Linked DNA regions of Homo sapiens: regions 2 and 3 are each reported to be linked to region 1. Evidence: microRNA targets listed by miRTarBase, many of them from high-throughput screens and not tested one by one. Region 1 holds a microRNA gene; each other region holds the end of a gene's coding sequence.

What was found. Region 1 holds the annotated microRNA hsa-miR-513a-5p (UUCACAGGGAGGUGUCAU, at 968-985, opposite strand). A microRNA usually pairs through its seed, bases 2 to 8, with sites in the 3' UTR of a target mRNA and lowers its output. Matches are read on the target gene's strand: a 7mer-m8 pairs with bases 2 to 8, a 7mer-A1 pairs with bases 2 to 7 and ends in A, and an 8mer does both.
Region 2: miRTarBase lists KCTD12 as a target of hsa-miR-513a-5p. The part of its 3' UTR that is shown has no 7-base or 8-base seed match.
Region 3: the mRNA of RBBP5 is a reported target of hsa-miR-513a-5p. Seed matches in the 3' UTR shown: 7mer-A1 at 1,636-1,642 and 7mer-A1 at 1,389-1,395.

Annotation. Positions count from the first base shown.
Region 1 is chrX:147,224,933-147,228,171 of GRCh38, forward strand. MIR513A2 (microRNA 513a-2) reads right to left here and starts at 1,020; the gene lies at 894-1,020. The region is part of intron 2 of LOC105373347 (periphilin-1); the gene reads left to right.
Region 2 is chr13:76,882,646-76,885,645 of GRCh38, forward strand. It overlaps KCTD12 (potassium channel tetramerization domain containing 12), which reads right to left. Exons shown (of 1, transcript NM_138444.4): 1 at 1-3,000. The coding sequence ends at 2,526. Among named protein-coding and RNA genes, the nearest start is that of KCTD12, 2.3 kb to the right of the region's middle. RefSeq lists an enhancer at 2,775-3,000 and a silencer at 2,888-3,000.
Region 3 is chr1:205,086,123-205,089,122 of GRCh38, forward strand. It overlaps RBBP5 (RB binding protein 5, histone lysine methyltransferase complex subunit), which reads right to left. Exons shown (of 14, transcript NM_005057.4): 14 at 20-2,693. The coding sequence ends at 2,665. Among named protein-coding and RNA genes, the nearest start is that of TMEM81, 3.2 kb to the left of the region's middle.

The DNA.
Region 1 (3,239 bases):
TGGGGCCGGGCATGGTGGTTCACGCCTGTAATCCCAGCAATTTGGGAGGGTGAGGTGGGTGGATCACGAGGTCAGCAGTTCGACACCAGTCTGACCAACGTGGTGAAACCTGGTCTCTACTAAAAATACAAAAATTAGCCAGGTGTGTTGGCGCACGCCTGTAATCCCAGCTACTTGGGAGGCTGAGGCAGAAGAATCGCTTGAACCCGGGAGACAGAGGTTGCAGTGAGCTGAGATGGCGCCACTGCACTCCAGCCTGTGTGAAAGAGTAAGAAAGACTCCATCTCAAAAAAAAAAAAGACAGAAAATGGGGAGAGAAGACTAGGAGATATCTCTTGAGTAACAACTCTATCATACGCTTCCATTGTTCAAACATAAAAAACAGGGAAAAAAGATAATGGAAAAGGGTGAAATATTCTTGGGTGGACTACGCTTAACCCTCCATAAATTGGTGACTGAAGGCTTTGAAAGGTATTTTAAAAGTCTATGAGAAAATGTTTTAGTCTTTGACAGAAAATGGACACTGTGGATCAGCAATGAAGGGACCTGAGAGGCAGGAGAGTCTTTTGGGAGCGCTAAAGGAGAATCCTTGCAAATGATGACTTCTTGATAAGTGAGAAAAGTTTAGGAATCTGGAATATAGCCTTCCAGCTGACGAAGAATGGCTGTGGCCTCTATCCAATGTATTTCTTATTTGAGCCAAGCCTCATTTGGCAAAAATAGATAAATTCTTAAGGAACCGAAGTGCATGCGTTTTCTCAGGAGTCCACAGTTCCTATGTATAGTCATTTAGAAGGCACAAAAAGTTCCCTGAAGTAGCCCAGCACTGAAGAGTGGGTGCACAGGATGCAAAACAGGCATCACCATGCTCGCAGCTACACCCCCATCCTCAGGGACACCACATATGCAGTGCATGCTGTACATTACCCTTCTCAGAAAGGTGAAATTTATATTTTAGTTCACATAAATGACACCTCCCTGTGAAAGGCACTGCACACTGAATGGCTGAATGTGGCATCCAAGAACAAATGCTCCCTATTCATGCCGTTTTTTTTCAAGTCCCTATAGGTGTATGCCTTGGCATGGCCACCAAGATTTATGCCAAGGGACAATGCAACTTGTAGCCCCCGGCGCTCCCCTTTTCATCCTGCCCCAAGTGAGATTTTAACATGCAGATTTTTGTTTTGTTTTTGTTTTTGTTTTCAGATGAAGTCTGGCTCTGTCGCCCAGACTGGCATGCATTGGTGTGATCTCGGCTCACTGCAACCTCCCCCTTCTGTGTCTAAGCACTTCTCCTGCCTCAGCCTCCCAAGTAGCTGGGATTAAAGGCACATACCACCGCGAATGGCTAATTAACACACAAATTTTAGGCTTAGCCAGAATATAACATTTCACTTCATCTCTTCCCCAGAGATGTGTAATCCTTGTCTGGATTATCCCATTAGTTTTCGCGTTAATTTGCTTGTCTCATTAAAAATCCTCAATATCAGGCCAGGTGCAGTGGGTCACACATATAATCTCATCACTCTGGTAGGCTGAGGCTGGTGGATCATCAGAGGTCAGGATTTTGAGACCAGCCTGGACAACGTGGTGAAATTCCATCTCTACTACAAATACAAAAAATTAGCCGGGTGTGGTGGTGGGCAACTGTAACCGCAGCTGCTGAGGCAGGAGAATCACTTGAACCCGGGAGGTGGAGGTTGCAGTGAGCCGAGATCATGCCACTGAATCACTTGAACCCGGGAGGTGGAGGTTGCAGTGAGCCGAGATCATGCCACTGCACCCCAGCCTGGGCAACAGAGTTAGTTAGACTCTTTCTCAAAAAAAAAAAACAAAAAAAAACTATATATATATATATGTGTGTGTGTGTGTGTGTGTGTGTGTGTGTGTGTGTGTGTGTGTGATGTACACAAATAATCATGAGCTGAGGCAAATTAAAAGACCTGGATTCTTCTAGCTCTGGCCCTTGATAGCATGTAGAAGTCAGACCACATGATCGTCAAGACCGAGTGTTTCTATGTACCATTCTCATTCATCTACTAAACATAACCCCTGAAAGACAGACAGAGAAGCACATAGCTCAGTGTTAGTGCTGAGTCACGGTCAAGGAGCCATAGTTCACTGAACAGAATGATTCTAAATATCTCAAGCATTTTACTGCATTTTTTGAATTCCATGAAAAGCAACCAAAGTTAGATTCTACAGAAATATTTATATATATCAATCAATCAATCAATCAATTTAGCTTTTCTCTTAAGTATTTGGGCCCTTGAGCTATCTCCCCAAAAAGTTCTCAAGGGGAAAAAAATACACAGACACAATACTCCCTCCTTCAAACACCAGTACAGGTACTACTTCTCTTCCTCTGCATCACCCACCCCTCAGTAGCTTCAAAGGAGTCTTTCCAGCAACCTGGCACATCATAGCAGGAGATTCTAAGACCCACTGCTCCATGAAACCACATACACAGACACATATACGCCCAAGTAAACAATATTAAAAAGAATGAGAATACAACAAAATATGAATACAAAAAAACTAACCATAAACAGAATTGATAAGCCATCGAAAGAACCCTAGCAATACACAATGCAAAGTTCCAACAACATATGTGCAAATTAATATGCAAATTAAAATATAACCGAAATCACACAGTGAAATCCAAATAACAACAAAAAGAAAATACAAAATTGCAAGCAATGTACGTAAAGAAATACCAATCAAAACACCAATGACCAAGAGCATGGCAAATCTGAAAACAAATTCAAACAAACACATATAATCCCAAAGGAGCCAAAGTCAAACAAACAAAGCAAAACCATACACATGAAATAAACTGATAAGAATAGCAAAAGCAAAACAAAAACAAAACAGAGATCCAACCTCAAACAAAAACAACATAACAAAATCCTCATGCTACATGCCCCGTGCACACACAAATGTATGGGCACATACACCAAAGTGCACACAGATACATGTATTACTCCCCCCATCACCATATAAACACAAACAAATGTGCTAGAACACATGCTAAAAACTCACAATCACCAACAAATATATCAGGGTATCTGAGCCTCAAAGCCCAAGGAAATCCTATGAGTGCAAGAAGGATGGAAATAGATACGATGAAGGGTAGCCACATGTAGTTGAATGGTAATACTATTAGGAAAGAAAGTAGAGTAGTTTTCTTCTATTTCATTGTAACCTACATTTCCCATCAAGTTCTTGAGTTGGGGAGG
Region 2 (3,000 bases), not on the chromosome of region 1:
GGGGTAGAGAAATCTCTGCAACACTGACTTTTGGTCAGTGAATCAGAGTCCTAAATTATTTCAGGCTTCAAACAGATGAATTCTGATGCATTACTTAGTCTGAGACCAAACTCAACATACAAGCAAGCACAACTTCCTAGATTTCTGCTTCCATTTCGCCTAAAATTACAGGCTTTGTATATGAAGTCAATTTTACTTCTCAAAAAATGTTAGTCTAATAAAAGACCTGAAATCTATTTCCCAACTAAAAAAAAATTAGTGGATTAAAAATACAGGTACCTTGACTTTAAGTAGACAGTTAATCAACATATGATTAGTAATACAACTAATACTCAAGAAAAAAAGTATAATACAGCAAACTCAGTTTTACAATTATGTATTTTTTCCTAACCCAATTCCTCGATAAGGATGTAAGAAACTCATCAAAACATGTTGCTTTAGTATATAAACCAGCTGATGCAAATTACTGGGGTAATATAGGAAATTTTATAGCATTAGTAAATGAATTAAAAAACTAAATGATTCATGTAAAATGTTTATATATGGTATATACAGCTTGGATCACATGAGTCTAAGAATAAAACTGTCGATTTGTAACATCTGTATGGACATAGTAAGATACAGTACGAGATTCATTTTTAAAAACAAGGAAAAATAGCACTAATTTAAACACTGAAAACAGCTCTTACAAAATCCTTAAAAACGTACATCAGAGAAAGATGCTGAAAACAAAACAAAATAGGCTTCTCTGTCATCACAGAATATCCAAAGGACACCTCACAGCATGGAGCATGACGAGGTTTATTTCCCTTCACTTATGGTTTACATAGGATATGCATTGGGAATTTATTCCATGTAAGAGTAAAGGCATAAGGCAACCAGGTCTCCTTCTGTTTCTGTTGCATTTACCTATTATTGGACCATTTTATTGCTCAGCTCACTTTTAAGTACTTATTTGCCTTCATTTAAAAATATTCCATTTTACAGCTATCTACAGATAGGCAGCCCTTGGTGCTGAGTTCTCTGCAGCTCGTCATTTGAAAGGATTCCACTTAACTTCAAACAAACTGCATGAAAGTGGCATTTTCAGGTTTTCAGGTTTGCCCAGAAGTCAACGTTTGCTGGGCTTGGAGAAAATAAGGATTTTTAATAAGTGATCTTAGGTCTAAGTAACCAAAATGAAACTTCTTTTGCGCAATAGATTCCAAAATCAGGATTTATAATCAACAAGAAAATAAAAGTTCAAAAACTAAAACCCTACTGGGTAACTCTTTGGTTAGATTATATATAAGCATTAACAACTCTAAGTTTAGGACTCAAAACAGTAAGTTAAGTAAACTGCCAGGTAAGAGTAGGTCTGTTATTAATCTTTATAAAATACTTGGCATGTTTGCATTTACTATATGATATTTTTTAAATGTGCATATACTCAAACAGATGGTACAAACTTCCAACTTTCAAATCATAAATGACTATGTCTGCTTCTCCCTTCCCACCCTTCCTACCCTTTCCTCCCTCCCCACCCCACCCCGCCCACCAAGTCTTACAGCTAAAGGAAGGTCCTACTGACATTCATTGAAAGAATACAGGCTTTCCTAATACCCACGACGTGCACTATGACCCAGCTCCCTACAGTCACTGCCAGGTGACCTCCTACGGCGCTTGGAGACCTGAGCAGCCTTGCACTCTTAGGCGGCAGCGTCCTTTCTCCCTCTTGCCAGTAACTGCTGCCATGTCAACCAGTGGAATCAAGGGCTTCTGGCGAGCAGCAGCTGAAAAGGGCGCCTCTGCAGGCAGGCGGATCACTTTCTATAAGTTTAAGCTACAGGCTGAGACCTTTTATTCTGTACGAGAAAGGATCCTTTACTGTCCCACGCACTAGATTCTTCTACTTTACGTGTAACTTTTCAAAACTTTATTAGTTTAGTTACTGAACTGCCTCCATGGGGTCCTAATTCCAGGCTCAGAATCTTCCATCCAGCCTTCTAAAACTCTACCTTCAAAAGAGGTCAAAAAGACTGTGTAATGACCTTGTAAAACACTAACCCCAGACAGTGGAACCAATCCTGATCTCTTAAACCCCCAGTGAGTCATAAGAGCTTGAGAAGATTTCAAGGAAATCTTCCGCACATTGGACACGGTCCAATCAGGTTCTGAACAATTCAATCATCCCCCGGTCTGTGGCCACACTCCCCCAATAGATCCAAACTGAAGTACCATCTGGGGGAGGGGTGGTTTGAGGCAGGGAGTAGAGAAAGCATGGAGTGGTAGGTGGGGGTGGGGTGGGGGTTCCTCTGGGTTCTCTCGGTTCAGGAGGTCCAAAGAAGACGAAGCAGCCCAGAGGATTTGCGGCTGCAGGTTCTGTAGTGGAGGGAAGGTGGGCGGACAGGTCTCACCCAGCTACTACTGGAGGGGGAGAATGGGAGGGCAGCAGCCAGGGGACAAAGGTGGGACAAGAGGCTCTGTAATCATCTCTCGGGCAGGAGAAGGACTGGGCGCTGGAGTGGCGAGGGGGTCTGGGGAGCTCACTCCCTGCAGAAGACGTACTCGGTGTAGCTGGTCCAGATCTTGTCCTCGCTCTGGTCGGTGCTGCTGGCAAAGGCGCAGGTGCCCGTGGAGCTGCACGCCACCATGTGGAAGCCCGACTCGGACAGCTTGTCGAAGGCCTGCTCCAGGAAGTTGAACTTGAGGTAATAGCGCGAGGTGTAGCGCTCCGGGGGACGGTCGGGGTCCCGGCTTTCGTTCAGGGTGTCCCCAAACACCTCCTTGGCCAGCGACGTCTTTCCGCAAACGGTGATGCGCGCCACTCGCCGGAACTTGGCGTCCGCCTGCGCGTCCCGCCCGATGGTGTAGGAGCCGCGGTAGCCGATGGTGATGTAGCCCGAGCGCCGGCTGCCGTCCAGCGACTGGGACGGCGTGAGCAGCGGGCCCGCCGCGCCCCCGGACGGACTGCGGCTAGCCAGCTCCAGCGTGGGCGACGGCGCCCCGGCAGAGGCGCCC
Region 3 (3,000 bases), not on the chromosome of region 1:
AAATAAACATCTACACCTGTTCTTTAATAAACATCCGATTTTATTTACAAAGCATTAAAGCTTCAGCAAGAAGTACCCAAGGCTAAGTCTCATCTTGTACAAAACTACAGATTTTTTTTTTTTTTTTTTTTTGAGATGGAGTCTTGCTCTGTCACCCAGGCTGGAGTGCAGTGGCGCAATCTCAGCTCACTGCAACCTCTGCCTCCTGGATTCAAGCAATTCTCCTGCCTCAGCCTCCCGAGTAGCTAGGATTACAGGTGCCCGCCACCACGCCCAGCTAATTTTTGTATTTTTAGTAGAGACGGGGTTTCACCATGTTGACCAGGCTGGTCTCAAACACCTGACCTCAGATGATCCACCAGCCTCGGCCTCCCCAAGTGCTGGGATTACAGGTGTGAGCCACCATGCCCAGCCCAGAATATTTTTAAAAACAAAATTTTGGGGGTGGCAGGGCAGGGATGACAAAAAGGAAGAAGAGAATATACATATATTGTACAAATCAAATAATTCAAATTGAAATGGATAGAAGGTTTTTTAAAAGTTGAAAAAAAAATTCCAAAAACATAAATAATTATTAGGAGCTACTGCCAGAGACAATCTGACAGGGCTGAAGATGATTTTCTCAGTAGCCAGTTTAGGAGGTGGACATAGCACAAACATCCAAATGCACAGGCAGAGGAAACCAAGCTACTTCACACGTGGAAAGATGGCAGAAACCCTCTAAGTCCCATAGTTTGCACACTGCTGCAGTGTACAGTGCAGAGGACTGGAATGGATATAATGTCTGCAAAACAAAAACATGTCTAGTGAGCCATCTACTAATCTCAACCACTGGTCTAACTCATGACAGTCTCAAAATGAATATTTAAGAAAAAAGTAGTGGCATCTAAAAATATAGACGTTTTGCAACTGACTCAGGGAGAGCTCTTTCTTCAACTACTGAATATACTGGTTTTAAATGATGGAGTGAGACAAAGAGGCTCTTGCTGACGTGCTCTACTTTGATTTCTATCCTAAAATCTAACAGGTAATCAATGTGTTTGGCTACCTATAGGAGCATCCACCAACTGATATCATTTTTTTTTTTTTTTTGAGATAGAGTCTCATTCTGTCACCTAGGCTGGAGGGCAGTGGTGCGATCTCCACTCACTGCAACCTCTGCCTCCCACGTTCAAGTGATTCTCCTGACTCAGCCTCCAGTGTAGCTGGGATTACAGGCATGTACTACCACGCCCAGCTAATTTTTGTCTTTTAATAGATACAGGCTTTCACCACGTTGGCCAGGCTGGTCTTGAACTCCTGACCTCGGGTGATCAACCCGCCTTGGCCTCCCAAAGTGCTGGGATTACAGGCGTGACCCACCACGCCCGGCTCACCAACTGATATATTTCACAGTAAGCACAGTATTTAAATTCTCCTTTTAAAATATTGAAAAAAAAAAAAAAAAAAAAAAGACGATCCAGATTAAGCACTTCCAGTCAGCTAAAAACGCCACTCAGAGAAGCTACTGAGCCCTTTTCACACCTGGTTTCCTAATGGGATTTTCAGAGAATTTCAAACACCAAATGTACACATCTATCCAATCTGTTATTTTTATAAAGAACAACAAATGTCAAAAAAAAAGCTAAGCAACCTTTCACAGAAAGGAAGTGACTGAAAACACAGTAAGAAAAAGGAGCACAGGTATAGGCAGGGAAAAATGCAATGACTGATGAGGATAGATTTCCACAGGCAGTGATACAAAAAATTCACCTTGATCTTTGATTTGAACTATGTGGTTGCTGCTTTGATTCTGGATGGTTTTACTTTACTCCTTGCATAGATTCCCCCACCCCAGTAAAAAAGTAGCTTGTTGAGAGACACCTGGGTTTGTTTCCATCTCTGGAAGCCAGCACAGGTAAAGCAATATAAACTATTGATGATTCTTTGCTGGAGATGGATAAAACTAGCTATCTTCAAAAACCATGATTGATGACAATGAACCAATATTGGAGGGAAACATGCAATGAGAGGAAAACAAGGGAAAACCCTGAATTGTTACAGCCCAGCTTCTTGAGCAAAACGTGGTATGAGAGGAAGAGAGGGCCTTCGTTGTTCCCTTTCTGAAAATTTGAAATCTTTCAAGCACTTTCTTTTCTGCCCATCCTTTGCACACAATATGGAAATATAGGAGGTATCTGGGGAGAGGAGAAGTTTAAAATGAGAGTATCCAACAAAAGCTTTCCTAGGATACCAGTAGCAAAATTTCAGATAAGAAGTCACTCAAAGACATGCATTGAGGACCGAAGGCAAATGGGAGATAGGAAATGACATGTCAAAATGACGCTGGGTACAATGAAGTTAGATGAGCAAAACATAAGTATCTTTTCTCCAGCAACATAACTAAGCATCAAAGTTTAAATGAGTCAAAATTCCTATCTGATGTCTTCACAAATCTTCATTCCTGAGAGTCTATTTGGACTTATGCTTGAAAGGGAAGGGAAGGTCGTATACTCTTCTTCCATAATTCACTTCTTCATTTAAACATAAAATTCACCCTCCCACCTCCTGGGTGGGAGGCACAGGCCTTTGTTTTAAATTAAAGTCAATTTTCAAATGACTGACCACAGTGTCCAGAGGCCACATGATGGCAAAGTGAGAAAGAATGAAGAACTTCGAAGGTCTTCATAACAGTTCTGAGATTGCTCCTCCTGCTAAAGAGATTAGACACAAAAAGATTTCTTTTAGCTTCAATTTAGACCAGTTACTTGTAAGAACAGAAATACTGAATGCTGGATGATGCATTACAAGCACACGTGGACCAAGAAATTCCCCTTTTTAAGAAAATACATAACCAACTCCAACTCCCAATTACTCTTTATTGAACAAAAAACAATCCAAATCCAAACCCCCCACCCCAATACTTTCCTCAGTACTGTCCCAAAGGGTTGGGGGAAAAGCAAAATGATCAGAGTTCTATTTTTTCTAAGCTGCTAACCATGCTCTAAGGTGCTAACAAAT